Linked DNA regions of Homo sapiens: regions 1 and 2 are each linked to region 3. A link means that fine-mapping ties the variant in region 3 to the plasma level of a protein whose gene starts in the linked region. Region 3 holds a variant in brackets. A gene starts in each other region. All regions are shown on their reverse strands.

Region 1 (10,008 bases), not on the chromosome of region 3:
ATGTTACCTGAGAAAGAAACTAGTAAACTTTATCTTGTTATGGATTTCAGGCCAGACCTTAAAAAGTAACCTCAACTCTCATAGCCTCAGTAAGTAACTTCCTGTGTAACTTAGTTTTAAATATACAGAAAAGCAAAAAGGAGAAATGTCTCTTTTCTTTCTAGTTTTTAATTGGCAACTGCTATTGGAGGTTTTCTTTCTCTTTAAGCTTACACAGCAGTACAAAAAGCTACATGGATCACAATATCTTGGTTTTAAGAAAATATATAAAACAGATACATAATAGAAAAATATTTTACTAGAAAAATCTTTCTGCATAATCTTTTTGGAAAACATTACTCTTTCCACAGGTCTTAAATTGTTTTATAGTTTCAACCACAAATCAAAAATGTCCATAAGAACTTGGACAGGCATTGGTAAACGGACATAAAAGCAAAACAGATTTGATTGATTTATGTTCAGTCACTCCTCCTTAGCACTTAAAAAATTAAAGCTTAATCATGCACATAGAAGGAAAACAACGCTTACTCTTGGGAACATCCTCCTTGAATATTAAATTAAGGCAACAAAAGGATTTTTTAAGTTAACCTGTATTTGTGCATTTAAAACATATTTGAATTTTTTCAGTGGTTGTTTTTGGCCTTGAAACATTGAATGTCACCAAAATATCAGAGAATTCCAGAACTCAGAGGGTTAAGAGGAAAGGTGTTATTTCAAATGCTAGGTCAACAAACTATTAATAACAAGCAAAATCTACCACCACTGTGTCTGTCATCTGCTTGATTATCATAATGCCGAGCCTGGTTGGTATTTACCAGTTTCTCCTTGGCTGAAAGAGTGGTAAAGAGCCCAATTGTTGATCAATTCTCAGTAATACAGAAGTGAGCTTATCTGCACATTTTCCTAAGGCCTTGCTATGAACTGAATATTTGTGTATCCCCAAATTCACATCTTGAAGTCCTAATCCTCCATCTGATAGTATTTGGACATAGGGTTTTGGCTAATTATATCATGAGGGTGGAACCTTCACGAATCGGATTAGTGATCTTAAACAAAGAAGAAACAGGGGAGTGAATCTCATTCTCTCTCTCTCTCTCTGGCTCTCTCTGCCATGTGAAGATATAGCAAGAAGGAGCCCATCTGCAAACGAGAAGAGGGTCCTCTCCAGGAACCAAATCAGCTAGCAGCTTGATCTTGGACTTCTCAGCCTCCAGAATTGTGAGAAATAAATGTTTGCTGTTTAAGCCACCCAGTCAATGGTATTTGATATAGCAGCCTGAGCTAAGAATGATAGTTTAAGGTGTGTTCATCTGGTGTCCCAGATGAAGATGTGTGTGGGGGTGAGTGGGAGTAAAGAAGAAGGAATGTAAGAGAAAATTAAAGTATATGGGAATTTTGACAAGCACTTAGTAGGTGAAGAGTAAATCAGAGAGTCATAAAGTATTAGATTTGGGATGTAACAAGCCCTTCCTTTAAAGGTGAGGAAATGGGCACAGTATATGAATTGAATTGCTCATGATCACAAGATGACTTAGAAAGATGAGGAGGAAGATAAGGCACAAGAAGTGAAATTATAATTATATATTTTTAAATGTTGAGAAGATAACTGGTTTGTAATAGAGTCTTGTTTACTTTTCTTACTTGACATTTGTCACAAATTTATATTTATGGCCGATCGCAAAATATTTACAGCAGCAAGCTCTAATATGACCTTTAGGGAAGTCTTAGAAACAAGCTGAAGATTGGAATGAACTATAAGACTCTGGGACAAAGTCAGGGATGTATAATAATTTTACACTGAATTCTGAGTTCAATGTGTTCCTTTCTCCAAACAGCAGCATTCTGTCACTCATTATGTCAAGACTCTCCTTGAATTCTGTTAATAATGGAAGAAATGAAGAGGAGAAGGGGATATGAAAGAGCATCACAGGACAAAGCCATCTCTATATTGGGGTTACAGCTTCAACCAAGGGAAAGTGTGAGAGATCTGGAAGGAAAACAAAAGAATATGGGCCATAGCAAGATATTGTTCTCAAGGGCATAATGACCTCTATGATCTCTCTCAAGTTGGAGAAGTTCTAGTCCCATTTCACACTGTTCTAGTTTCAGGTAACAACAATGAAAATTGAACTAGCTTAAGGCAAAAGGGGACATGAACAACTAACCCACAGGAAGAGCTTGAATATTCTCCAGATCCATCTGAGATTTTGATTCTTTCAAACAGTAGCTTCATTCTTACCACGGCCTGGTTATTCCTATATAGAAGGAAAGAAAAACTAGATGTGGAGTTTTAGATCTCAAAAGCTATCCATGAAAGACTGGATATAAACTCTTTATTTCATTTACAAAAACTGCCAGATAAAGGACTCAGTGGAAGTCCCATCCAATTAACAGTGAGCAAGGCATTTTACTTGGTTCAACTTGGTGTTTTGAGTGATCCAACTTAGAGCCAGGGAGTGGGAGTTGTTGTAGCACGGAGGTAGATCCAAGTTAAACATGTAGAACTGAGGAAAGGGCTGTTTCTGGAAAATGGGCACTCAGCAGGTAATTCCAGGTATTCATCCGTGGCTTGCTAAGTAACACATTGTGTTACCCACATAATTTTTATGCAGGTTCTGAGTAACAGCAACACATTCTAGTTAGGTCCCCTAATAGGGATTTATTATCAAGCTATATGGAAAAGTAAAGAAATACAGAGATTCATCTTGGCCTCTAACAATCCAAGTATCATGTCCTTTCTACATCAGCTAGTAAATATTCCCTACTCTGGTATTTGTTTCTTATAATGACTTAGATGAGATGGGAAGCAAATGAGGGTAGACACTGAAATAACTGATTCTTGACTTGAGCTCATGGCTTCTTTCTCATCCTTTGGCTTGCCCATACAGGGTACTACCTTCCTGTCTACATTTCAAATTATCTGAGCTGGAATCTGATTGGGTAGACAAGGCACCATCAAATATATCATGCTTTTTTTGGCAAAAGCTTTGATGTCAAATCATTTTATAGGCTGCTGTTCAGATACCCATCTGTGGCCACATATCTAAAATTGTTGTTTCAATGTTAGAATGAGTAAAATGGGGATCAAGGCAGAACAAACAGAATTAGAGGGAAACTGTGGGTATGTTGGGTAATGTAATAGGTGAATCCTTGTATGGGCTGTTTAATATCCACAAAAATATATACTAAGTGTTTTTTTAAACCAATGAATATTAATGGAAAATCCTCCTTTGTCAAGAATTATTCTAGAAGATATGGGTGAGAGCAGGGCATATAGAAGATATTCTGTTATAGAAAAGCTATAAAATTGACAGGGGAACAAAAACTAACATAATTGGCACAACTATAAAAAAATCCAAAATATTCAGGCCATGAAGTTTTTGCCCTACAATTTAAGCGAAAATATGCAACTCATTTATTCACTTTGTCTTTTTTTTCTTTTTCTTTTTCTCTCTTTTTTTTTTTCAGAGATAGGGTCTTGCTCTATCTCCCAGGTTGGAGTGCAGTGGCATGATCATAGCTCACTGTAACTATTAACTCCTGGGCTCAAGCAATTCTATCCCATCTCAGCCTCCCAATAGCTAAGACTACAGGTGTGCACCACCATACCCAGCTCATTAAAAAAAAAAAAAAAAAAAGGTAGAGTTGAGGTCTCACTATGTTGCCCAGGTTGGTCTGGAACTTCTGGCCTCAAGGGATCCTCCCACTTCAGCCTCCCAAAATGCTAGAATTACAAGCATGAGCCACCACACCTGGCCCATTCCTTCACTTCGTGCAACATAATTGCCATCAGAAACCAGACTTTTTTTTTTTTTTTACTACAGAGACTTAAACTTTTACAAAAGGAAGATGTTTTTCTCATTTAAATTGTCATTCTAGGGACAGAAAGTAAGTTTTGAAAAGAAGTAGCTTTTATGGAAGAGAGGTGCCTGAGAATTTCAAAAGGATTTAAGACAAGGGGAATGAGAAGAGATTGAATGAAAGAAGAGAAAACAGAGAGAAAGAGTAATTAAAAAAAAGAAAAGAAAAGAAAACAAAGATAATCCCAAAGAGCAGTGTGCACAGTTTTGCTGCAATCAGTACCATTCTGGTCAAGTCTCCGTCATCTGCTCTAGGCTTAGTTCCTCTCTGCCCTAGGCTGCTTCTGGTAAAACCGCACGCTCAGCTTGTTGGGCGTCTTCATGGAGCCTGTTATTTGCTGTGGGTCTAAGAAAGGGAAAGCTTCAGGCTTCAGGCATCTGTACCTCCTATCTGTTCTCAGCTCCATGGAAATTCTTAAGGGATGGGGCTATAGATAAGAGAGTGGGAAATGGAGATCAAGGTCTCAAATGAAAGGCAGGGTGGTTTGATTTTTAAGCTCCCCTGATACTTTTTATTTATATATTTGCTGCTTCTAGAAAAACCAAAAAAGGAAAGTGATTCATACATAGAATGCCTGTACAAATAGCAAACCAATAACTACCCCCAGCAGATTCTGGCCCTTGCCAGGGTGCGGTTTCAGAGCTGTAAAAGGCAAGGGATATGTACATTGAAATGACCCAGTCCCAGAATATTTTAGATTCAGAAAAGGTCAGAGACTTTCGTAACTAGCAATGACCTCCAGATTAGGGACCATGAATGTGCAGAGTGAGGACAAGGAAGGGGCCTAAAGCTGGGTCTACTGTAGAATAAACAGAATCATTTAAGGTTAATTATGTTCTGATGTGGCCTCCTTAAATTCTTTCAGGCTGGGGACAATTTCTAGCCCTTTAAGATCAAATCAGTGGCTTTGGACTAGAATCTGCTTAATAAGAATGAACTCCAAAGGTGAAAAAAAAACATAAAATCTAAAAATCAAAGGATATGCCTTTATAAATGTGAAAGTTTAGTTTGGCTCAATGTTGGTCAGTTTAGAAATGTGGGAGTAATCGGAGAGATGGCATAACTGGGGGCGGGAGGCGGGGCGGTGATTATACCCCTACCACTACCTAATCCTCAGGGGCTACCAGTTACTTGCTGTACACACTTTTAAAGTACTTTCTAATTGTGGACCATGAGTGGCAGAGTACTGCGGGCGGAGGCTTTTTGCTGAAAGCAACATTGACTTTTATTTCTAGGGAAAGTCTTGTCTGTAGATGAGCACCGTGGGGCAACGGAGAAAATGCTGACTTTCTTGTTTAAAAAAAAAAAAAATTTCCGTAAGCGGCCCTCCAATGGTCCGTCCACTCAGCAGGCCAGCTGTCCCAGGCCTCTGCCAGGGAGGGAAGACGAGTGCTTCAGTGCATGGCTTCGGTGAGCCCTTTAAATCCAGCTTCCCCTGCCCCCACCAAGAGGCTCCCTTTCCCTGACAGGTGTTTTCCCAACTCCGGAGGCCCAGGATTTTGGGGAGTGGCTGAGCCAATAAGATTTCCCTTTGGAAGGGGGGGGGAAGGGCGTGGCTAGTTGGGTCAGAGCATGGGCGGGGTTTGCGCGGCTGAGCAGAGCCGGCCTGGTTGCGTGGAGGGTTGTTTTATTCCCACCGCCCCCCGCACCTTTTTTTTTTTTTTTTCTGGAGTCTTATTAATTTCTCTGTGGGCTGCAGCTGGAGACCGCGGAGCGCTGGAAATGACGCTCGGAGCTTTAATTACCGCAGCCGCCGGACAAGTGTGAGGAAAGCTGAGAGGAAAAAGAAGGACGGGATCCGGGGAGAAGCGAGAAGCTCCCCCCGCCCCGCTCCCCTCCCGATTTGGACTGGAGGTGCAAGGAAACTGAAGAAGGAGCAGAACATAGCCCGGCTGCGGGGAGAGGCCGGAAACCTACCGCCTCTTTGCAATCAACTTTTTTTGGAAACCTTTCGCCCCCCTTCCTTTTTTATTGTTGACCAACCAGTGAGAGAGAGAGAAAGTGAGGAGGGAGCGAGCAAGCGAAGGCTCACGCGGGGAAATAGCTGCACAGTCCGGCCCAGAGCGCCAAGCGCACACACCGAGCACACTCCCACACGCGCACACACGCGCTCACACTCGCCCCCTCCTCGGGCCCCGGCCCTGGACCCGCGGGCGCGGACTCGGTCGCCCGCCCTGGGAGTCGCCACACCGCGCGCGCCGCGCCCGCCCCCCTCGCACCCCCACGCGCGCCCGGCTGGGGGATCTCCTCCGCGTGCCCGAAAGGGGGATATGCCATTTGGACATGTAATTGTCAGCACGGGATCTGAGACTTCCAAAAAATGAAGCCGGCGACAGGACTTTGGGTCTGGGTGAGCCTTCTCGTGGCGGCGGGGACCGTCCAGCCCAGCGATTCTCAGTCAGGTGGGTTCCTTCTGGCACTCCGGTCGCCGAACCTGCAGCCGCCGGCGGGGCTGCCTCGAGTGGCTCCCCTGCCCTCTTCACCCATCCCGGGAGGCGTGGAGGGACCGCTTGACCGGGGCCTCTTCCCTGGGCTTTCGGTCACCCCTCTTTCCATTTGAAACTTACCCTGTATGTGTGCGTTTGCTTTATTTATCGTGAAAAATCACTCTGAGTCCCTCTTTTCTCTCCTTAACCCCCTGCTTTTCTTTCCCGAGCGTTTTGTTTGGGAGCCTAAGCGGGATCCCTTCTGGTGGCGCCTGTTGTTCGGGACATGGGAGACCCAAATCCCCAGTCAGAGGAGACTCTTCTGTCCCTGTCGGGTCCCCGAGGGCAGAACCCGCACCGCCGGGGCCGCGGTCCTGGGGCGGTGCTGGCTGGGCCTCTCCCGAGCCGAGCCCGAAGGGCGGTGGAGAGCGGCGCTCAGAAAATCGGGCTTTGCACCTGTGTGTGCTGCTGGCGACCGCTGCGCCCCCAGTCGCCCGAGCCTTGTGGCGTCAGACGCAACTCGCGCCCAGCCCGGGCAGCCGGAGTGCAGCAGGCGGGCGCGCCTCGGTCCGGGGCCCGGAGTTCTGGGCCTCTTCCGCCGGCTTCCCGGAGCCCTCTCCCCATTGACTTGAGGGGCGCTTACTCGCCTGCCTGACCTCTTAAAAAAAAAAAAAAAGGCTTGGCACACTTGAGCCAGAAGCCCGGCCTTCCCGTCGGTTGCCGTGTTTGGCTCCGGGAAGAGTTCTTCCTGTAGTTCAACTTGCTATTGGCCGGAGTCCTTCAAACTTGTCTGTTTACTGCCCGGCCAGGCTGCCGAGCCTGCGGGTCACTGGATCCACCCGAGGCGAAAGCGGCAGCGGCGATGGGTGCGCGGCCACTGCTTGCTGGAGAGCTCGAGCCCCAGGTACCTGGGCAGGCAAAGGGCTAATTGACCCCGAGAGGCAGCGCGGCGGGGCTGGCCCGCCACGGCTTGCAGGACTAATGACAGCACCTGCAGTGCAATGGAGCTCAAAGTTTCTGACACTAGAGTTTCCTGGGGATGAAAGTGGGACGGGAGAGGTCTGAGGAGGACCGGTGTCTTGACGTGGCCAAGGGGTGCCTTTTGGAGAGCCAGAGAGATTTCCGAAACCATCCAGGGATGGTGACTGGAGCGTGGGAAGTAGCTTGAGGTGATAAAGCCCCCGGGAGTGGCGATAGGGAGCGCTTTAGGCCCCCGGAGGGTGTCCTTCTGACCTCACCAAGAAAACGGCTAGCTGTAGTTTTCCCGCTCCGCCGCCGCCGCCGCCGCCGCCTCCTTTGCCTAGTAAATAACAAGTTACAATTATCGAGTCTTTCAAAATGACCTTCGAATGGCACATGTGAGGCGTTTGTGCTGGCCGTTTGCACCCTCCCAATTACTCCGAAATTCTTCACGCATACCAGGTCCCGCGCTCCAGCCACCTCCGGAATCACACCAACACGGACTTGACATTCCAAGCGGCCTCTTAGATACATCTCTTTTTATCTCCCTCCCCACTTCGAGTCCCTTCATATTTTCCCTCAATGGGTTGATTATGCACATTGACCCATTCAAAGGCATTGGCGACCGACATGCAGGCTTAGCCGAGAGGAATTTCTACGAGGCGACCTACTGGGGGCTGTCTGGTTCAGCCTCTGCCACTGGGGGACCCCGCTCCGAGTCCGCAGCAATTTGGTATTAACTGTGCGGCTCCGAGTTGAGCTATGCCGAAAAGCCCTTTTCAGAATTTCTGCAAGGAATGTAATCCAAATTAGTTCTGCAGCTGTCCTCTTCCTCGTCTCAGGCGACACTAGCTCGCGCCCTCGCTTCGTCTCTTCTCGTTTCCCTGGGCGAATTGTCAGACCCACAAGTGAGCCCATTTAGAGCGCGAGGATTAGCGTGCCATTGTTGTTCCGTGTGTGACTCTGTACTTGAAATTCTGGGGGCACAAAGGCGAGCCTCACTTGTTCAAAACACAAAGTGATCCAGATGAAAGGGCCGCACAAAGAAAAGCTCTCGGGTGCATCCCTGGTATAATTGCAACACGCATACTAAGGTGATCCATTGGAAACTGTAAATGCCCCGGGGGACTTCGTTTTTCATCCTCCCCCACCCCCACCCTGCCGCACCTGGCAGGGAAAGTTCAGCTGGTTTTAATGCAGTGCTATTATAAAAACAAGTTACTGTCTGGGGTATGAGTGAGGCTGTGTGTGTTTGTGCCTATGTATGTGTGTGGCTGTGTGTTCCCAACTAAATACATATTGCGCGTCTCCCCTCTCGCGGTTAGCAGTCAGTAGCAGTTTGGAGGAGTTTGTTTTGGTCCAAATGAGAAATTAAGTGCGGATAAGTAAACTAAGCTGCCAGAGGGCGACAAGATGTTGAGTGAATTGCTTTTAGATGAAACAAATTAAGGAAACGAGGGAAGACAATCTGCTTCTCGCATTATTAGACACGCTTGGAGTTCAGGGGAAAGTGGCATATTTTTGAAATGCTAATTTCTTAAGCAGAAGGAATGCACCTTATTTACTGCTCTATGTGAACAGAATAAAAATATAGGGCGGGGGATGCTGTTGTATAGATCTTTAAGATATTTCTTAATTGTAACAGAAGAGAACCTCTTTTTTCTTTTGCTTGGAAAAAAATTCAGCATTAGAGAGGATGTTTTTTAGAAATTCTAAAGGACTTTGTCTCATTTTCAATTATGCATTTTATTTAGATATATCTAGATATAGCCAAAGTCCCTTTATATGGCAATTATAAAGCCTTTGCTAACCAAAGGAATGGTTCTAAAATTCGTCTTCCTTGTATAATGGAAAATTATCAATATTGCCTTGGTATTGAAGAAAATGTATAGTAGCATTGAGGTGGTACTCTTATATACCTTAGTAGATAAACGATGAACAAGTTCAGTTCCCATTTCTTTTTTGCAGGTAACTCAGTCTTGCTTTTCATTCTATAAAAGTACATATAGCTTTCGTACATATTTAAGATACATCATTATATCTCCAAAATCATGGGGTTATTTTTCATTTGAGAAGAAAAATGTTAATAAAAGTTAAGTGGTGAAAAAGGTGTTAAATATATTTTCAAGAAAGCATCAATTCTCTTTCTTACAAGTGTTTACTGTAAGCACATCTATCGGTACAATGTTTTCTTTTTAATTTGAAATTCTCATATATATATATATAAAAGGGGGCTTTTTAGAAGAAGGTGTTATTTTTTTCTTCACAATATGTCTAAATAAATATCTGTTAGTATAACTGCAAATCGCTTGGAAATACTATAACTGTTCTGTTGTGATGAAATGACTCCAGTTATATCAGTATTCCTTTTTTTTGCTCTTAAACTCAACTGCTTTTATTTATTTTAATCATGTATGCATAGAAAGTGAAATTTTGTTGAAAATCAAGGCACTTACTGCTTTATATATATATTTTCATTTAGTCACTGGAAATGTGTCTTAATTAAGAAATTACATTAGAATATTTATCAGAGCATGAACTTTGTGGAAGATTTATGCATTTTTTATTCTAACCTGAACACAGTAAGTTTGCATTGGCTGATTTTTAGAGTTTGCATTTATTTGATGGAAAATCGTATTTCCTCCTCAAAGTGGATTCAAATATGTAGTATTCATGAGCTTTCATCCCTTTGGTTTTTAAATAGAAGTACTATTTATCATCTGTCTTATGCATTCACCCTTTCTGTTACTATAGATTCTCT
Region 2 (10,167 bases), not on the chromosome of region 3:
AAGGGTTGCTTTGGCTTGAGAGATAAGGATATGAGCAGGCACTAAAACCCCAGCCCAGAGACCTCAGTATGAGGCTATGTAGGGGGTGTGCTCGGCATTGGTGTCCTTGCACTGGTATTTATTCATCAGGAGGTAAAGAAATATTGAACAGAAATGTTTTGAGCTAAAAACTGCTTCTCGAGGCTGGGCGCTGTGGCTCATGCCTATAATCCCAACACTTTGGGAGCCTGAGGAGGGTGGATCACCTGAGGTCAAGAGTTTGAGAGGAGCCTGGCCAATGTGGTGAAACCCCATCTCTACTAAAAATACAAACAGGCCAGGCATGATGGCTCACACCTGTAATCCCAGCACTTTGGGAGGCCAAGGTGGGCAGATCACGAGGTCAGGAGATCGAGACCATCCTGGCCAACATGGTGAAACCCCGTCTTTATTAAAAATACCCAGCTACTCGGGAGGCTGAGGCAGGAGAAGTGCTTGAACCCAGGAAGTGGAGGTTGCAGTGAGCCAAGATTGGGCCACTGCACTCCAGCCTGGTGACGGAGACTCTGTCTCAAAAAAAAAAAAAAAAAAAATTAGCCAGGAGTAGTGGCAGGCACCTGTAATTCCAGCTACCAGGAGGCTGAGGCAGGAGAATCACTTGAACCTGGGAGGTGGAGGTTGCAGTGAGCTAAGATCACACCATTGCACTCCAGCCTGGGTGACAACAGCAAGACTCTGTATCAAAAACAAACAAAAACCTGCTTCTTGGGCTAGGTGCGGTGGCTTAAGCCTATAATCCCAGTACTTTGGGAGGCTGAGGTGGGAGGATTGCTTGAATCCAGGAGTTTGAGACCAGCCTGGGCAATATAGTCAGACCTCTGTCTCTACAGAAAATTTAAGAATTAGCCAGGTGCAGTGGTGCATGTCTGTAGTCCCAGCTACTCAGGAGGCTGAGGTGGGAGGATTGCTTGAACCCGGGAGGTGGAGGTTGCAGTGAGCTGAGATTGCACCACTGCACTCCAACCTAAGTGACAGAGGGAGACTCTGTCTCAAAAAATATACATAAATTTTTTTTTTGCAATTGCTTCTTGTCAATCTCAGCCCAGGACCTGGGTGACCTCTGCCATAGAGAAGGGAATGTATTAAGCCATTCTTCCTTTGCTATAAAGAAATACCCTGTAATCCTAACACTGGGAAACTGAGGCTGGAGGATCACTTGAGCCTAGGAGTTTGAGACCATCTGGGCAACATGGTGAAACCCTGTCTTTACGAAGAATTTTTTTTTTTTAAGATGGAGTTTCGCTGGGTGCGGTGGCTCACGCCTGTAATCCCAGCACTTTGGGAGGCCAAGGCGGGCGGCTCACCTGAGGTCAGGAGTTCGAGACCAGCCTGACCAATATGATGAAACCCCATCTCTACTAAAAATACAAAAATTAGCCGGGCATGGTGGCATGTGCCTGTAATCCCAGCTACCTGGGAGGCTGAGACAGGAGAATCACTTGAACCTGAGAGCTGGGAGGCGGAGGTTGCAGTGAGCCGAGATCGCGCCGTTGCACTCCAGCCTGGGCAACAAGAGCGAAACTCCGTCTCAAAAAAAAAAAATGGAGTTTTGCTCTTGTTGCCCAGGCTGGAGTGCAATGGCACAATCTTGGCTTACTGCAACCTCCGCCTCCCGGGTTCAAGTGATTCTCCTGTCTCAGCCTCCCAAGTAGCTGGGATTACAGGCGCCTGCCACCATGCCTGGCTAATTTTTTTGTATTTTTAATAGAGACAGGGTTTCACCATGTTGGTCAAGCTAGTCCCAAACTCCTGACCTCAGGTGATCCACCTGCCTTGGCTTCTCAAAGTGCTGGGATTACAGGCATGAGCCACTGCGTCTGGCCTTCTACGAATAATTTTTAAAAATTAGCCAGGTGTGGTGGTGTGCACCTGTAGTCCCACCTACTTGAGAGGCTGAAGTGGGAGGATCACTAGAGCATGTGAAGTTGAGGCTGTGGTGAGCCATGATTGCACCACTGTGCTCCAGCCTGGGCAGTAGAGTGAGACCCTGTCTCAAAAAAAAAAAAAAAAAAAGGAAGAAAGAAAAAGAAAAAAAATACCTGAGACTGGGTAATTTTTTTTTTTTTTGAGACAGAGTCTTGCTCTGTCACCCCTGCTGGAGTGCAGTGGCATGATCTCAGCTCACTGCAAGCTCTGCCTCCTGGGTTCATGCCATTCTCCTGCCTCAGCCTCCCGAGTAGCTGGGACTACAGGTGCCCGCCACCACGTCAGGCTAATTTTTTTTTTTCATTTTTAGTAGAGATGGGGTTTCACCGTGTTAGCCAGGATGGTCTCAATCTCCTGACCTCATGATCCGCCCATCTCGGCCTCCCAAAGTGCTGGGATTACAGGCGTGAGCCACCGCGCCCGGCTTTTTTTTTTTTTTGGAGACAGGGTCTCACTGTGTCACCCAGGCTATAGTGTGGTGGCATGATCTTGGCTCACTGCAACCTCTGCCTTAGCCTCCCAAGTAGCTGGGACTACAGGCCGACACCACCATGCCTGGCTGACCACCATGCTTGCCTGGGAGACTGAACAATTTATAAGGAAAAGAAGCTTAATTAGCTCATGGTTCTGCAGGCTTTATGGGAAGCATGGTGTTGGCATCTGCTCAGCTCCTGGGTAGGCCTCTGGAAGCTTACAATCATGTCAGAAGGTGAAGGAGAAGCAGACATGTCACATATCCAGAGCAGGAGCAAGAGAGGGAGGGAGTTATGGGAGGAGGTGCCACACACTTTTAAATGACTGGATCTCTTGTGAACTCAGTGACAGCTCACTTATCCCCAAGAGAATGGCCCAAGCCATTCATGAAGGATCCACCCCCATGATCCAGACACCTCCACCAGGCCCCACCTCCAACATTAGGGATTACATTTCATCATGAGATTTGGGTGGGGACAAATATCCAAACTATATTAAGGAGGAATATTTCCCTTTCTTTATCAGGAGTATAAAGTAGGAGGCATGGGGGATTCTCTCCCTGTTCTGTTCAGGCATAGGTTAAGGAAACACCAATTCCTTTAAACATATGCATCTGGAGTTGCCAATTCTGAGTATCACAGTTGTTAAAATATGACACAGTCCCTGCCCTCAAGAAATTGACAAGGTAGAAAAATAAAAAATGGCTCTTTTTGTTTCCATCCCTACAAGCACTCTGGTCTAGTAGTATATTCAGCAAAAGGAGCAAAAAGTGCCACTTCCAGCTCCAAATCAGCAGGTCGGGTGGTGGGGTCTGGCCAAGTTCACACACAGAATAATTAACTCCTGCATGCTACCTGGGATGATATTTATTCGATGCTTGCTATATGCCAGGTATAATGCTACACCTTTTTTTTTCTTTTCTTTTTTTTTTTTTGAGTCGGAGTCTCGCTCTACTGCCCAGGCTGGAGTGCAATAGCATGATCTTGGCTCACTGCAACCTCCGCCTCCTGGGTTCAAGCAATTCTTCTGCCCCACTGAGCCTCCCGAGTAGCTGGGAATACAGGCATGTGCCACCATGCCCGGCTAATCTTTGTAATTTTAGTAGAGATGGGGTTTCATCATATTGGCCAGGCTGGTCTTGAACTCCTGACCTCGTGATCCGCCCACCTTGGCCTCCCAAAGTGCTGGGATTACAGGCGTGAGCCACCGCGCCCAGCCTACACCTTCATTTAAATACTATACTCATTTAATCCTCACAATGTGAAATAGATACTATTATCCTTAATTTTACAGGTGAAGAAATGGAAGCACAGAAAAATTAAGTGACTTGCCCAAGGTCATCCAGCTAGTGTCGGCATTTGAATCTAGGCAGTCTGTAAAGCTTGTGGTCTTAACTATTTATTATACTGCTAACATCCTGGATTAGGATAGCAGCAGGAATTAAAGCTCAATGGAGAGAGAGAGGACTTGAGAGAAGGTAGAATCCATGTAATCTGACCATAAGAGGAGAAAATTGAGATTACAAGTGAAAGTGGAATAAGATACAGGGTCTTTGGGCATTTGAGTTGCAATCAGTGGATTGTAACACCCTCCCCGAGCAGGATTTGTGTCTTAATCATTTTGCACCTAGCATAAAGCTGGGCTCATAATCATTCTCAAAACACATTATTGAATTGAATGATGGATGAGTAACATCATCTCTGTAGAAAGGACTGGCTCATTTGTCATTGTCCACAAGGGGCAATGCTGCTTATCTAGCAGGTGTTGGCAGTCACAGAGGACATGGTTGGTGGAGAGGGTGTGCTGGAGGGCTGTCAATATTAGTCTTGGAGTCATATTTATTTGCAGAGCTTCTCCAATCCTCATTAAAGGCCCAATGATATGAGGCTCTCCACCCCTGTACCCAGACAGAAATATGCACCAGACACTTTATTTTCTCTCATGAAAAGGCTGGCCTGTTACAGGTGGGATTGGTCATTGCTCCCAGCCCGTCAGCTTGATACTGCATTCTTGGTCTATTCTGTGGGGACAGCCCTGGAATAGACACTGAGTATCTATCAGAGTAGGCACCCTGAGCAAACTTCCTTTCCCAAACCCTCTTCCTGCCCATAACATGATTTGGCTTGGGCTGGAGGAGGGGGAGGGCAGAGGAGACACCCCTTGACCACCTCACATCTTTGTTGGTTCATGGGTCTCAGCCCTTTCCTATCATCCCAAAGAGCCTGAAATTGTTACATTTTGCTTTATAAATTCCTTTCTTAAGTATTGTCAGTTTCAAAAAAAAAAACCCAAAAAACGATTGTCTGCCTGTAATAGCAGGTGTGAGAGAAAATGAGGTGCCTGGAGCATATTTCTCTCTGGCAATGGGGTAGAGGGCCTGACATCATGGGGCCTTTAATGGTAGCCCCCCAGCTTCATGTTCCCTCACCTTTCTGGAGAGGAGGGCTTGGGAAAGGCACATGGAGATAGGGTGGAGCTGGGGGAAAACAGGCCTTGTACAAAAGCTGAGTAGCCAGATGTTCACTTTTACAGCTCTTCTGTAAAACTGGCAGGGCAGATATAGATTAAAACGAAGGACAAACTCCATTTAAAGTGCATTACAGCTCAGGAACCAGCACCCCCTGGGCAGGAGAAGGGAGGGAAGGGCACAGAGGCCACATCAGTCTCCTTCCTTATCTAGGGCCACATGTCTCTCTCCTAGCTTTGCCAAGGGTGATTTACACCCCCAGCTGGAATGACTCTCTTTCTGGGCTGATTACATCGGCAAATGCCCCCCAGAGGCCACAGCAGGATGGCCATATTCAGAAGCAGCAGCCAATAAATCTCAGAGGTTTATATTGCGATTCTCAGTACTCCCTGCTGGCCCTCTGCCAGGCTGGCTGTGGAAGTAAGGAGGGGGTCAAGTTAGAGGGTTAGGGGATGAAACCCTCCACTTCCTTTCATCACCCTCTTCTCCTTCTCTCTTTCTATGCGCTGCTTAGTTCTCATTCTTCCAAGCCATTCTGCTTCTGGCTTTATCCTGGGATCTTGTGGGAATCAGGCCCAGGCCCAATAAATACCCTTATCCTTATGGGTAGACGTCCTGTGTTCTGGGCACAGATGTGTTTCTACCTAGTTGTTTAATCCTGATAGAGTAGCTTGCTCTCCGAAAGTCTCATCATGTGAAAAGGATGGGCTCCTAAATGGTCTCTCCAGGCACCTTCCTCAGTGAGCTTTGGTCCAAGGAAATCTCTGCTATTTAGTGGAGAGTTTAATCTTCCATCTTCCCTCACGACACCATCGGGGCTGAATTTTGGAATCTAATGCCCCAGGTCTGCTCCCCCAGCAAAGCCATTCCACCTGTCTGCGACCCATCTTTGCAGCATCTTGAGCTTAATAACCACCCAATCTTACCCTAGAAGACACTTAGGAGAGGAAAAAACGAGATCATAGATGTGCAAATTCTAAGAAAAATACTAGAAATGCAAGTGCCCTTGTGTTGGCTTGTTCAAGTTTTGTTACAAAATCTCTTTTGTGGTGGTGTCTGTTCTTTGATGTGTGGGTGAGTGGGATCCAGAAAGTGAGAAAGGGTGCTTTTCTTGGAGAAATATTTGGTTCTCCTAGATGGCGAGTTTCCAGCGGCAGCTTCCACAATGTCTTGCTAGTCGAACTTGTCAGACAGCAGGTGGGCCGCCTCGGAAAGAGCAACCTCTTCCGCACCAAGCCCGGCGGCTCCCGGGGCGCCGGCCCTCCCCCGCCCCCACCCCCGCGGTCCCTCGGACCAGCGCTGGAGGCGCGTGGTGTGGACGCGCGCTTCGGAGTTGGAGGGCGGCGCCCAGGACCCTGGTGGGAGAGTGTGTGCGTCGCGCTGGAGGGCGGGAGGCGGGGGCGGGAGGTGCCGGTCGAGGGAGCCCCGCTCTCAGAGCTCCAGGGGAGGAGCGAGGGGAGCGCGGAGCCCGGCGCCTACAGCTCGCCATGGTGCGCCCCCTGAACCCGCGACCGCTGCCGCCCGTAGTCCTGATGTTGCTGCTGCTGCTGCCGCCGTCGCCGCTGCCTCTCGCAGCCGGTGAGTGTCAGAGCGCGCACCGGCCGGGGGTACAGTGGGAGGGGGAGGTGAGGTGTAGGCGAGGCCCGGGGCACCTGTCCGGAGAGGGCGCAGCAGCCTCCCGGTGCATCCGAGCCGAACAAGGGGAACTGGAGCAGGAAGCCCAGGGTGCCTGCAAGGGGCTGGGGTCACACCTAACACAGTGTACGAACTGAGATAGACTGAGTGCCAGCAATGGCCTGGCCACCCAAGCATCTCCTCCTCGCCCCTTTTTCCCCCCTCTTCCCTCTTTTGAGGTAGGTCTACACAGTCACAGAACAACCCACAGCCAGGTCACTACCAAGACAGCGTCTCTAAGAGGCGGGGAGAATCAGATCAGAAACAGAGTGTCATTTGCTCCACGTGGGCTTTAACTCTTCCATCTGCTTTAAGGACTGAGGAAGAAACTAGGTACAGGTGAAGAAAAAGAAGTTCGTTAAAACTGACTTGTTTCATAACCTTCTACAATAGCAGGCCTTGCAAGCCGTCTAGCACAGTGGCTTGCCCCTTGGATAATAAATAATCCACAATAGATGTTTTGTAGATGTAGTTCAAGGCCTGGTTTTAGAACCAGGCCACTCCCCCAAGGAAGAACAGCCTGGGATCCGAGATCCCTGGAAGGCCCATGGCCTTCGTGAGTGGTATGGGTGTGTGGAATCTTATTATGCGGCTCCTGCCCAGAGACTGAATGGAGGGACTCCTGAGACAGAGAGACCACCACACTGCCCTGAGACCTCAGTCCACAACGCAGTGCTGTAGAAATGCTGCCTTGAGACAGATATGGAAGGAAGGAGGAAAAACCCTGGTCTGTCCACCTGCCAACATCAGTAAGTCAGGGCAGCAAGACATCACCAGTCTGATTTGACTGCCCAGGAAATTTCACTAATCCTAAAGGTTATGGCTGCATGTCAGGATCAGGGGAAAACATTAAACACCTTTCTCATTAAATGGTTTAATGAAGCAGTGTTGGTGACAGATCTATTTTCCACAGTAATACTTGACAGCAATGACATCTGGTTAAGTAGCCTCATTGAAAATCCATAAAACAGTCATCTAGGAGGTACCATGTAGAGCCAAGTGCTCTTCAAGAGCACAGACCAACAGAGGGCTTTGGGGGTGGAAAATATCATTGCTCAGGGCCTGCTAAAGCCAAGCATATAGGAGACCTCCGATTCATGGGGAAGTGGTGTCATGTACTGAAAATCATTCTGAAGTGGATAGGAGGCTGGAGTCCTGGGTTCTAGCCTTGACTCGGTCTTGACTTGCTACATCCCCTGGTGCACATTACTTTTCTTTGTTCATCCAACTATAAAATGGATACCTGGGTTGTGGGCCTCACTGATGAGAAACAAATGAGGATCTTGTGCCCTGAGGCATAGCCTGATCTGACCCATTCTGTAGCTACTCATTCTCTGATGAGCCAAGAAGCAGAAAACAAAGTTACAAAACCAGGTTGCTAACAAATCAATATGAAATAGACGTGGCAGTGGCTGTATAAATGAGGAGGTGGGGCAAGTAATAGAAAGTGGTATGGACTATAACAAGCTGGAAAAGGCATGACTTGTCAAAAGGGGGCAGTCATTACTCCACCCGTTACATGTGGGCCCGAGTGTTTCCATTTTTCAAGACAAATTGGAAATTAATAGTTTTATTTGAAATCTGATTTTTTTTTTGAGACAGGGTATCAATCTGTCACCCAGGCTGGAGTTCAGTGGTGTGATTCCAGTTCACTGCAGCCTCAACCTCCCATACTCAAGTAATCCTTCTGCCTCAGCCTCCCCAGTAGCTGGGACTGTAGTAGTGTGCCACCACACCTGGTTAATTTTTGTATTTTTTGTAGAGACGGGTTTTTGCCATCTCGGATGCCCAGGCTGATCTTGAATCCTGGGCTCAAACAGTCTGCCCACCTTGGCCTCCCAAAGTGCTGCAATTAAAGGTGTGCGCCACCGCACCCGGCCTAAAATCTGATTTTTAAATGTTGGCCACTAATTACAACTTTAAGAAAATACTGGCTGGGTGCAGTGGCTCACACCTGTAATCCCAGCACTTTGGGAGGCTGAGACGGGTAGATCACGAGGTCAGGAGATTGAGACCATCCTGGCTAACACAGTGAATCCCCGTCGCTACTAAAAAATAGAAAAAATTAGCCAGGCATGCTGGTGGGCGCCTGTAGTCCCAACTACCCGGGAGGCTGAGGCAGGAGAATGGCGTGAACCTGGGAGGTGGAGCTTGCAGTGAGCTGAGATCGCGCCACTGCACTCCAGCCTGGGTGACAGAGCGAGACTCCGTCTCAAAAAAAAAAAAAAGAAAAAGAAAATACTGTGAACGTGCAAAAAAAACCAACCAAACAAACAAATAAAACAACCAAACCACACACACACACACACACACACACACACACAAAAAAAAAAAAAAAAAAAAAACAGAAAAGAAAATACTGCCGGGAATGGTGGCTCACGCCTATAATCCCAGCATTTTGGGAGGCCAAGGTGGGTGGATTGCTTGAGCTCAAGAGTTCGAGACCAGCCCGGGCAACATGGTGAAAACCCATCTCTACAAAAAATACAAAATTAGCTGGGCGTGGTAGTGCATGCATGCAGTCCCAGCTACTTGGGAGGCTGAGGTGGGAGAATTCACCTGAGCCTGGGAGGTCGAGACTGTAGGCTGCAGTGAGTGGCGATTGTACCACTGCACTCCAGTCTGGGTGACAGAGATTAAAAGAAAGAAAAGAAAAGGAGAAAGGAGAAAGAAAAAGAAAGGAACGGAACTATGCTGACTAAAAAAGACACATTTGCACACTGGATCAAATTATGACCTTTGCCCTGGATCAAGTCCTGTGTTTCACAATCCAGGAAACACAGGTTCCACCTTGTTGAGATGAAATTTAACGTGGCCCCCAAGTTCTTTGTTGAGATGAATGCCCCTAAATCCATCACTGCTCAAACTTGGTAAAGTGTCAACTAAGAAATTGTTTTCTTTTGAAAATGTTTACAACTCAATAGTTAGTACAGTTAAATATTTATGGCCGGGCACAGTGGCTCATGCCTGTAATCCCAGCACTTTGTTGAGGCCGAGGCGGGCAGATCACCTGAGGTCGGGAGTTCAAGATCAGCCTGACCAACATCGAGAAATCGCATCTCTACTAAAAATACAAAATTAGCCAGGCATGGTGGGGCATACCTGTAATCCCAGCTAGTTGGGAGGCTGAGGCAGGAGAATCGCTTGAACCCGGGAGGCAGAGGTTGCAGTGAGCCGAGATCGCGCCACTGCACTCCAGCCTGGGTAACAAGAGCAAAACTCCACCTCAAAAAAAAAAAATTATTTTTAGTCCAGTTACAACAATAGAACTTGAATCTGCCACTTTTCTTTGTGTACTTACCACTTATTCAGTACCTACCGGAAGTAACATCGTAAACTTGTAGAAATTCCTCAATCTTTTTAAATCCATGTTCCCCTTTTGGTAAATATATAAAATCTCATACCTTCCTTAAATACTTTTTGAAATCTCAAAAGCTTTTTTTTTCATCTTGTACATGTAAAATTATCAAATATGCTTTTTGGAAATACATATTTCCTAGAGAAATTCTGATATACTTTTTCTTTTCCATAGGTTATTGGGGTACATACAGGTGGTGTTTGGTTACATAAGTAAGTTCTTTAGTGCT
Region 3 (10,085 bases):
AGTTTCATTATGTTGGCCAGGCTGGTCTTGAACTCCTGACCTCAGGTGATCCACTTGCCTCAGCCTCCCAAAGTGCTGGGATTACAGGCGTGAGCCACCGTGCCTGGCCATCTGAGCAGACTTCTTTAATAGGCACGATGTAAGTTTTCATGTCCCTTTTCCCTGTTGTGGAGAGTGTGGAAGTAGGTGTGATGGAACCTCCAGCAACCTGGATATGTGTATATCTCAAGGAGCAGATATACCTCCCCTGCCAGCTCAAGTAGGACATATGGTATGAGTGGGAAGACCTTTGCTATGTTAAGCTATTGGGTTTGGGAGGAGTTTCTTAGCACAGCATAACCTAGCCCATCCTAACTAGTACACATACCAATATCACCTTAGATAGGCCGAGTCAAGTATGGAGACCATATTTCTACAAAGTCAGGATCGTAGCCTGTCAAAGATCTAATGCTTAACTCTGGGGTCTTCTTCAGTAGGAAGGAATATCTTCTTGCAAAAGTAGGGTGGGATTCCTAAAGATGTGAACTCTTCCTCCCCTTCTTTTGCTAGTCCCTGTTAAGTAGAGAACTCTGATTCACCCATTTGCCATTGTGTCCCTAAAGTCTAGCCCAGGGCCTGAATTAAGAATTAAGAATACTTAATTCTTAATTCACACACAATGGGATTTACTCTGAAGTTCCTTTCTATGAATCTTCCTGTAGATCACATCCAAGAATATGCCATGAGCCTTCCTCCCCTCCCTAAGCCCCTCCACACACCCCTCTGCCTTGAGCAATTTGTTAATTTCTCCTTGACCTAAGCCTCAGGCTGGACAACTCACAGCCTCCTTCTCTGCCTGATCTTGACAATGGCACTGCATAGGAGCTTCCCTGTTATCAAAGTCATACTCACGAATAATAATCTTTATAACTCTCATGATGAAACATTTGAAAATCAGAGGCAAGTGGTAAAAAACTCATCCATGATCTCCTCACCTCGAAGGAACTGCTGTTGACACTGTGACCTTTCCTTTCCTATTTTCCTCTGTGCATTCCCCCTCCCCCCATACTTTTAGGGAGAGCCTATGAATGTCTCCTATTTAGGAGGAGAGGGAAAAGCCACCCACAAATGCAGAAAATGGCACAGCTGGAAGGGGACTTACGAATCCTTCAACCAACTCCCTTACATTACCATTGAGAATGCTGCTTTATACTAGTCTGGGTGCAGATGTGTGAAAAGTAAAAACAAATATCTGGCAAGACCCAAACCAAGCTAAGTGATTGTTGTCTCTGGGGTTGGGGGACTAGAAGGGTGGTGAAAAGATACTGTCATGTTTTGAATCTTTTGCAACAAAAATGTATTCAAGTGTTACTTGCATTTAAAGCACATTATTACTAGAAGAAAAGAGAAAGCAACTTTTATGTCAAGGGTTTCATGGCTATTATTGGCATATTGGTTGAGGCCACTAGTTTCCTGGGTATCAGTCAGTCTCCTCCTAGTGTCATTGCCCCTTGGTCAAGTGTCCTCAAGGAAGAGATTCATTCCAGGGCAGCCCATTTTTTCCTACAACATGGGCACCCAGATGCCAAGATGGCATGGGAAAAAGGAAAATTCTGCAGGCCCCAACCTGAACCATTAGCCCACAAGTCCAATCTCTGTAAGACCCACGCTGGGATCAAATGCCTTCAAGCCCAGACTCAGCCCCATCAGAGGGGGCAGTAGGTGCTCTCAAGACGAAAGGGATTCTTGGTGAATCAGGAAAGTTATTGGGCTGGAAAGTGATTAAAGGGCTGAGCGTGGGAGGGGATTTCCACTGAGAGAGCCAGGCCCAGGAGCAAGCCTGGGCGGGTCGGCTGCAGAGTTGCTGCCCACTTGAAGTCTGTCGCAATGGTGCCCATAAAACCCAAGTCATCAGAGACTTGAAACCTTGGTAGGGTTTTTCCTTCTGTTTCCCTTTAGAAAAACAGAGATCCGAGGAAACCCCAAAGTCCTGGAACAAAGGGCTGTACATCAAAGCGGTGCGAGCAGGTCAGGAGAAGTCTGAGGGAGAGGTCAGCTGGAGTGGGTCTCCCAGCCCCCAGCTCCCAGGGAGAGGAGAGCAGTGAGGGACCTGTGGATTGGAGGGTGGGTGCAGAAGCCTGAAGGGAGAAGCAGGGTGGGGAGGAGCAGGGCTGTGAACAGACCCATTTTCATGCCCCATCTAGGTGAGGAGGCACTACCTGGCCTGAGGAATCCAGGGAACAGGTTGAGGAAGGAGTAGTGATGTTTTCTTTTCTTGCCTATACAGGGGTTACATAGCTCCCATAAACTAGCCAGGCTTTTTTTTTTTTTTCAAATATGCACTGAATCTGCAAGATAGAACTTGACAGCCTTCATTTTACAGATGAGGAAACTGAGGTCAGAGAGAGGAAGTGATTGTGTAAGGTGTCACCAAGCTTAGGCTAGGACATGGGTGTCCTGTCTCCTACCTGAGTGCTCCTTCCCCTACACCAGTGGTTCTCACACGTGGGCGTCAGAATCACCTGGAGGGCTTGTTCAAACACGGATTGCTGGGCTCCAAACCCGGGTCTGGGGTGGAGCCTAGAATTTGTATTTCTAACAAGTTCCCAGCTGATGCTGACTCTGCTGGCCTGAGACTACATTTTGAGAACCGCTGCTCTAGACCCTTGCTATCTAAAGTATGTTCTGTTGACTAGCAGCATCAGTGTTACTTGGAAGCTTCTAGAAGTGCAGAATCTCAGGTCCTACCCTAGACCTATTCCATCAGAATCTGCATTTGCAAGATCCCCAGGTGATCCATTTGCACACTGCAGTCTGAGAAGCGCTGGTCTATGCCACACACCTCTTTCTGGACTGGGGGTCAAATTGAGGCAGCCTAGATGAGCCTTCCAACTCCAGTTGCCAGGGGATAATGGAATAGGTGCCCAGGGTCCTGTGGGGGAACCAGCCCCTTTTTTGTGTTCCCCAAGGTTGGGGAGTTCTCTCCAGAACTACAGAGACAGGAGGGGCTGCATGCTCAGCTCTGGGTTTGCTCGGTTCTAGTGTACACACCCGACATCAGGAGGCTCTATGTGCCCACCTTGGGGAATCCTGGGAATGCCTGGAGGCCAATAACTGCCATTCAAGCCTCTAAATCAACCCCTGCTCTGAAGCCAGCCCTTGCGTTTGAAATTCTATTTCAAGAACTTATGTAATACCTATGTGTTTATTTTATTTTAAAAATATGCCTAATACATGAGTATGACATCCAAACCATATTGAAGCATGCTCATAAAATGACAGGCATTCTCACACTGCCCATCCCCATCCTGGACATTCCATAAGTAACATATCACTGTGAATTGAATCCTGTTAGATATAACCTGTACAACAGAGGTGGACTTTGTTCATTGTGGCCATGCTATATACCTTATTAACTCACTGTACTGTAATGTTTCCCCATGAAACAACGTATTTCAGGCATCTCAACCTACTAAGACCTGTAGATCTGTGTATTTTCAACTGCTGCACCGCATGAACATTTATGTACTGTGCAGTTAACTAGATTTTTAGAGAAGCAATGCATGCACAGGATTTAAAAAAATCAAACAATACAGATTGGTGAACAATGAAAAAATAAGTCTCTATCTTTCTTCTTCATTGTTACCTAGAGAAACTGTTAACAATTTATTTTAAATTTTTATTTACTTTTCTAAACAGGGTCTTGCTCTGTTGCCCAGGCTGGAGTGCACTGGTGTGATCATAGCTCACTGTAGCCTCAAACTCCTGGGCTCAAGCCATCCTCCCACCTCAGACTCCTGAGTAGCTGGGACTACAGGCATGTACCCCACTATGGCTATATTTAAAAAATGATTTTGGAGAAACAAGATCTTACTATGTTGCCTAGGCTGGTCTCAGACTCCTGGGCTCAAGCGATCCTCATGCCTTAGCCTCCTAAGGTGCTGAGATTACAGGCAAACCATTTATTTTTGGTATTTAATTAAAATACTTAATTTTTGTAATAGTTTTGGATGTATAGTAAATTTGAGCAGATAGAACAGAGTTCCTGCATACCTACCCTTCCCCCATAGTTTCTCCTATTATTAACATCTTGCATTAATGTGCTACATTTTTTACAATGAATGAGCCAAGATTCATACATTTACTATTAACTGAAGTTCATGGTTTAAACTCACTCTTGTTGTATGGTTCTGCAGGCTTTGATAGATGCATAACGTCACGTATCCACCATTATAGTATCATACAAAATAGTCTTGCTGCCCTAAAAATCTCCTTTAACCATCTAGTGGTTTCCATTGTTTTAAATAATGCAGTTACATTCTTTTCATTAGTTCATTAACTCTAGATTGCATTGATTGTTTCCCCTCCTCTGCATTATCCTTTTCCACCTCCCAGTTTTTGTCAGGTACATTGTCATTTCATTTTCTCATTCGATAATTATTCATTCAGTTCCTACAGTGTATTAGGCAATGTTCTAGGTGCTGGAGCCACAGGGGTAAAAAAAACAGATAGGCTGGACGCGGTGGCTGACGCCTGTAATCCCAGCACTTTGGGAGGCCGAGGCAGGCGGATCACGAGGTCAGGAGATTGGAACCATCCTGGCTAACACAGTGAAACCCCGTCTGTACTAAAAATACAAAAAGTTAGCCGGGCATGGTGGCGGGCGCCTGTAGTCCCAGCTACTCAGGAGGCTGAGGCAGGAGAATGGCGTGAACCCAGGAGGCAGAGCTTGCAGTGAGCTGAGATCGCGCCACTGCACTCCAGCCTGGGCGACAGAGCGAGACTCTGCCTCAAAAAAACAAACAAACAAAAAACAAACTCCCCGCTGGCATAGAGCCCACAAGTAAAGGAGATAGACAATAAGTAAGAAAAATACAATTGTGGATGCTAATATGTGCCATAGAGAAAAATTGAGCAGGGACGGGATACAGTGTGTGTATGTACATCTATGGAAGGGGGTTGTGGCTTTAAACACAGTGTTGGGAGAAGACCCCATTGAGAAGGTAATACGTGAACACAGCTTAGTGTGGTGAAAAAATGAACCATTTGGTGATCTGGGAGAGAGGATTCCAGACAGTGAGGACAGCAGGTGCAAAGGCCCTGAGGAAGGATGGTTGCCAAGTTCAAGGGATGGTGAGGACTGTGGCTGGAGCCAGGGATAGAGGAAAGTACAGGAGGTAAGATCAGAAAGTGAAGAGCAGGTCTTAGAGGGCCTTGCAGGTAGCATCAATGACTTTGGCTTTACTCAGAATGAGATGAGAAGACTCTGGTGGCTTTTGAGCAAAGGAGTGATATCATCCTTAGTTTTAAAGTTTTTGCAGTGTTAATGTACGTCTTGTTTTGTTAATAAATTGTCTTCAACACTTTTCTTTAGATTGAGTCTAACAATTTATGAAGAATTTATATAAGATTAAGTAGACAGCCAGGCGCAGTGGCTCATGCCTGTAATCCCTGCTCTTTGGGAGGCTGAGGCTGGTGGATCGCCTGAGGGCAGGAGTTCGAGACTAGGCTGGCCAAAATAGTGAAACCCCGTCTCTACTAAAAACACAAAAAATTAGCTGGGCATGATGGCAGGCGCCTGTAATCCCAGCTACTAGGGAGGCTGAGGCAGGAGAATCGCTTGAACCCGGGAGGTGGAGGTTGCAGTGAGCCGAGGTCGTGCCATTGCACTCCAGCCTGAGCAACAAGAGCAAAACTCAATCTAAAAAAAAAAAAAAAAGAATTAAGTAAATATAGAAAACAAAAGCTATGTTACTTTTTGCATCTCTCTGGGTCTCATTCTTACCTCTAACCCGCCTTATTCCCATCTTTCTTTCCGCCTTGTCCTGGGTAGCCACCCAGAGGGACCCCTCCTCTCCACTTGGACTTCCTCCTTCTCACACAGGTGTGGAGGTGGTGTGGCTCAGCCCTAGCTAGAACCATTTCCAGCACATTCTTCCCTGGGGCCATTTTGTAGTCTAGCCTGTTCCAGCCGGACTTGGATTTACTGACGGTGCAGATCTGCTTTCTCTTTGGGGTGGGCAGAGGGAGAAGCCAGCTCTGGGCTGCTACCATGGGACATTTTGTCCATCAGCCAGATGTGGAGTTAACAAGTCAATGATAATTGAGTAAGTGATGGGGCGCGGTGGCTCACGCCTGTAGTCCCAGGACTTTGGGAGGCTGAGGTGGGCAGATCATGAGCTCAGGAGTTCGAGACCAGCCTGGCCAACATGATGAAACTCCATCTCTACTAAAAATACAAAAATTAGCCAGGCATGGTGGCAGGCGCCTGTAATCCCAGTTACTCGGGAGGCTTAGGCAGGAGAATCACTTGAGCCCAGGAGGCGGGGGTTGCAGGGAGCCGAGATTGTGCCATTGCACTCCAGCCTGGGTGACAAAGTGAGACTCCATCTCAAAAAAAAAAAAAAAAAAAAAAGAATTGGGTAAGTATCTCTAGGGCCCAGCACTGCTCCAGCCCAGTGACTTAACCAAGAAGTTTAAGTCAGAGCTCCTGTTCCAGGGGATGGGTAGGGATACCTCAGCAGGAAGGGAGGAGCAGCACCAGCCCTCTCTGCACGCTGCTCCCCTGGCTTTTGAGTTCTTCTTGATCCTTCTGATGGCCCAAATAATCCAGCCTGGGCCTGAGCCTCTCCCAGATGTGGCTACCAGGCAAGATGCCAGTTCTAGGGAAAGATTTGGAATGAATCATCTCCCCTAGTCCCAGAGGTCTTGAGATTGGAGGACAGGATTCCAGGTTCCAAGGACCCATTCAGGCCTCCAGGAAGACGTTGTCGTGTTAGGAACTGGATGCTTAGCTGATGAAGACCCTTCCAGCAGTAGAGTATGTCCTGCTAAATTTCCTCCAATGGCCCCCCACCCCCATCTTTATCTGCTCACTCTTGCTATCCAATGTTCCCTTCTCCTGTGTCCAAAAGCCCGCTACCTCGCAACTCAGTAAGCTGAAGAGAAAAGTATGGGTGACTGGATCATTTTTAAAGGAACTATGTGGACTCAGATGTTCATGTATGGGCAGTATGGGTATGTATCATCAAACGATCCTGGGCCCTGTTAGCCACCATGCATTCTCATCTGGACTTTGCCATTTTCAAAGCCATGTGACGCCATTTACATTATCTGACCTCTCTGGGTCTCATTTTTCTCATCGGTAAAACGCCCACAGTGATAATAATATCTGTCTATCATGAGCATCTACAACATGTGAGAGGGCTCTGTACGAAGCCCATACAACTGTGAATCCACCTGGAACTGGAAAGAGCATGAATGAGTCCCAGACCCAGTGTGGGGAGAAGAGGAACTGGTAGAGATAAAACAGCAGTGGCCCACGCATGTAATCCCAGCACTTTGGGAGGCCAAGGCAGGCGGATCACCTGAGGCGGGGAGTTTGAGACCAGCCTGACCAACATGGAGAAACCCCGACTCTACTAAAAATACAAAAAATTAGCCAGGTGTGGTGGCAGATGCCTGTAATCCCAGCTACTTGGGAGGCTGAGGCAGGAGAATCGCTTGAACCTGGGAAGCAGAGGTTGCAGTGAGCCGAGATCGCACCGTTGCACTCCAGCCTGGGCAACGAGGGCAAAACTCCGTCTCAAAAACAAAAACAAAACAAAACAAAAAAATGAGTTAGGGGTAGAGCCTGATCTAGGGCCCTGTTTCCTCAGAGAGAGAACTTTGGATCATGGCAGGACTGTGCCAGGTTGGTGCACCCAGGAGACCCCTGTGGAGTGGTGGGGAGGAGCCATGGGAGGGCAGGGCTGGCAGGCAGGCTGAGACCTTGTGGGTCCCTCAGGTAGGGCCGTGGCCACCTCGAGCTCCCTCTTCTGCTGCTCTCTGGGCCTCAGGAGACACCTGTCTTTGTCTTTTCTTTAATGCCACTGTCTATTCCCTCTCCTGGAGGGGCATTCTGGGAGTTAGGAGTTAGTTGTCGTCACACGTGTGTGTGTGTGTGTGTGTGTGTGTGTATAAAGAGTTATGGATGAGACACTGACAGTTCCCTTCTCTCATCTCCTAACTTTGGGACTGCAGAGGAGCGCACTCCTATCCCCACAACAGGACCTTCCCTGTATCTGTTAGGCTCTGCTCTTTGGGCAGGAGGATGGCAACACAGGGTGTAAGTACAAAGAGGTCTTATTACTGTCATTATTATATATCATTACTCCCGTAAGAATCTATTATTAACATGTTGATGAATAGACCTTTAAGAAACTGTGGGCCTGGAGGAACTGATCAAGATGGGGACAGAATGAGGACCTAAGAGAGCCCTCTTCCAGTGCCTGGCTTAATCTCAGGGCCCCCATCATTCTCTAAAGGGAATAAGAGTGGGGAGAGGGGAGGAAGAACATTTCTTGAGACTCAAGAGTTGTCAGGTCCTGTCTTGGGTCTTTCACAAATGTTATCCAACTTATTCATCAGGACAACCCCATGAGATGAGAATAAATTAATCCTCCTATTCGACAGATGAGGAAATTGACGGAGGTCAGTAAAGTTGCCCCAGGTGGGCAGGACACAGCCAACAAGGGAGAAGAGGTTTGAACTCAACTCTGCAAAGCTCTTGTGTTTACACAATATTCTAGCCAGAACAGAAAGAGACCTCTCCCTCTGCGTTCCCCTCCAGCTCTGTATGCGGGAGAAGTCCATTCTTGGGGAAGGCCGAGGGAGGACAGAATCTGCGGAGCGGAAGGAGCAAGGTTGGAGCTGCGCTTACACCTGGGACTGGCTGTGCCATCGGTCCAGCGTCGGCGCCTGCAAGTGTGCGGTGGAGAGGACTGCAGACAGTGGCATCCCCAGGTCACGGAGGGGGTCCCTCCTCCCCCACTACGAGGAGGGCATGAATGACCTCAAGCCTCAGCTCTCCTTTGTTGGCACTGGCTACTCTCTACAGGCCTCCCCGCGCAATGCATGGGGGTAGGAGTAGGAGCAGGTGAACTGTCCAAGCAGAGGCAGCGATGGACAGCCTCTCTTGGGTGCTGCACAGAGAAATCGGGCGATGGAGGAGGAACCCAACATGGGCTTGATGCAGAGGCTGGGGGCCCCATGGCGTGCCAAGTAACCAGCAGCTGTCTGACGCCTAACATGCAACTGGTGCCACTGCGCGTTCGCCAAGCAAGCCCACCCCCTTGCTAGCAGCGCGCTCTCCAATCGAGGAGATGCGCCTTCCCCCTCCCTTCCCCGCCATCTCCCCCTTCATTCAAGGCCTGGGGGAGCTGCGGTTCCGAGAAGCGGCAGACGGCAGCCAGAAGGCTTGGGCTGTTGAGTAAGCAGCCCCCTCTCAGTCCCGGCCCTCCCCGCCCCGCGCCCTGCGCCTCCAGTGAGTGACTGAGCCCCCGCTGCGGCCCCGCCCCCGGGGCCCTGCCGGAGCTGGTGCGCGGCGCGGAGGGGAGGGCCGGCCAGGGTAGGAATGCGCTGCGGGCGGGCGGCGCAGGAGGCGAGCGGCGGAACATGTAAGGGCACATCCCGCGAGCTGCCGCCCAGCGCGCAGACAGAGCCCAGGGGAGCAAGAGAACGGGCGGGCGGTGGGGCTCACGGCCTAGGGAGGCGCGGAGGCATCTGGCAGAGGCGGGTCGGGCTGGGCCAGCTGGGGTAGAGCGGAGGAGCGGGTGCCGGCTGAAGCGGGGCGGTGGGCGCGGAGCGCGCTGGGGGCACCGACACCACCTCACCGGCAGCCGGGTGCTGAGGGCCGCGGTGTGGGTGCGCGGAGCAGTCAGGGCGCAGGTGGGCAGCGCGCACGGCCTGCCAGCCCGGGGCGCCAGAATCCTGCGCTGCGGGGCCGAGAGGGGCGCCGCGCCCGCCGCAGCCTGGAGCTTTCCGCGAACCTCGGGGCGCCCATGACGGCGGCGGCGACGGCTACCGTGCTCAAGGAGGGCGTGCTGGAGAAGCGCAGCGGCGGGCTGCTGCAGCTGTGGAAGC[G/A]GAAGCGCTGCGTCCTCACCGAACGCGGGCTGCAGCTCTTCGAGGCCAAGGGCACGGGCGGCCGGCCCAAGGAGCTCAGCTTCGCCCGCATCAAGGCCGTGGAGTGCGTGGAGAGCACCGGGCGCCACATCTACTTCACGCTGGTGACCGAAGGGGGCGGCGAGATCGACTTCCGCTGCCCCCTGGAAGATCCCGGCTGGAAC

Direction of the effects. Positions count from the first base shown, and alleles are read on the strand shown. Strength reflects both the effect of a copy and how common the allele is.
For the plasma level of the protein whose gene starts at base 5,910 in region 1, G is the low allele of the variant in region 3 and A is the other (weak association).
For the plasma level of the protein whose gene starts at base 6,197 in region 2, allele A in region 3 goes with a higher level than allele G (weak association).

The links. PIP is the posterior inclusion probability: the model's chance that the variant is causal. The UK Biobank Pharma Proteomics Project read protein levels with antibody pairs (Olink). The fine-mapping took linkage between variants from a reference panel, not from the people measured, so its PIPs are less certain.
Region 1: ERBB4 starts here. The variant in region 3 is fine-mapped to the plasma level of the ERBB4 protein (UK Biobank, PIP above 0.99).
Region 2: GFRA3 starts here. The variant in region 3 is fine-mapped to the plasma level of the GFRA3 protein (UK Biobank, PIP above 0.99).

The regions. Positions count from the first base shown.
Region 1 is chr2:212,534,704-212,544,711 of GRCh38, reverse strand. ERBB4 (erb-b2 receptor tyrosine kinase 4) reads left to right here and starts at 5,910. Exons shown (of 28, transcript NM_005235.3): 1 at 5,910-6,263. The coding sequence starts at 6,182. RefSeq lists an enhancer at 6,879-7,379.
Region 2 is chr5:138,270,651-138,280,817 of GRCh38, reverse strand. GFRA3 (GDNF family receptor alpha 3) reads left to right here and starts at 6,197. Exons shown (of 8, transcript NM_001496.4): 1 at 6,197-6,484. The coding sequence starts at 6,394. RefSeq lists silencers at 6,105-6,194, 6,285-6,474.
Region 3 is chr1:201,468,502-201,478,586 of GRCh38, reverse strand. It overlaps PHLDA3 (pleckstrin homology like domain family A member 3), which reads left to right and starts at 9,399. Exons shown (of 2, transcript NM_012396.5): 1 at 9,399-10,085. The coding sequence starts at 9,801. RefSeq lists silencers at 9,130-9,359, 9,570-9,879 and enhancers at 9,380-9,499, 9,014-9,728, 9,950-10,085. The variant G/A (reference allele first, on the strand shown) is at 9,883.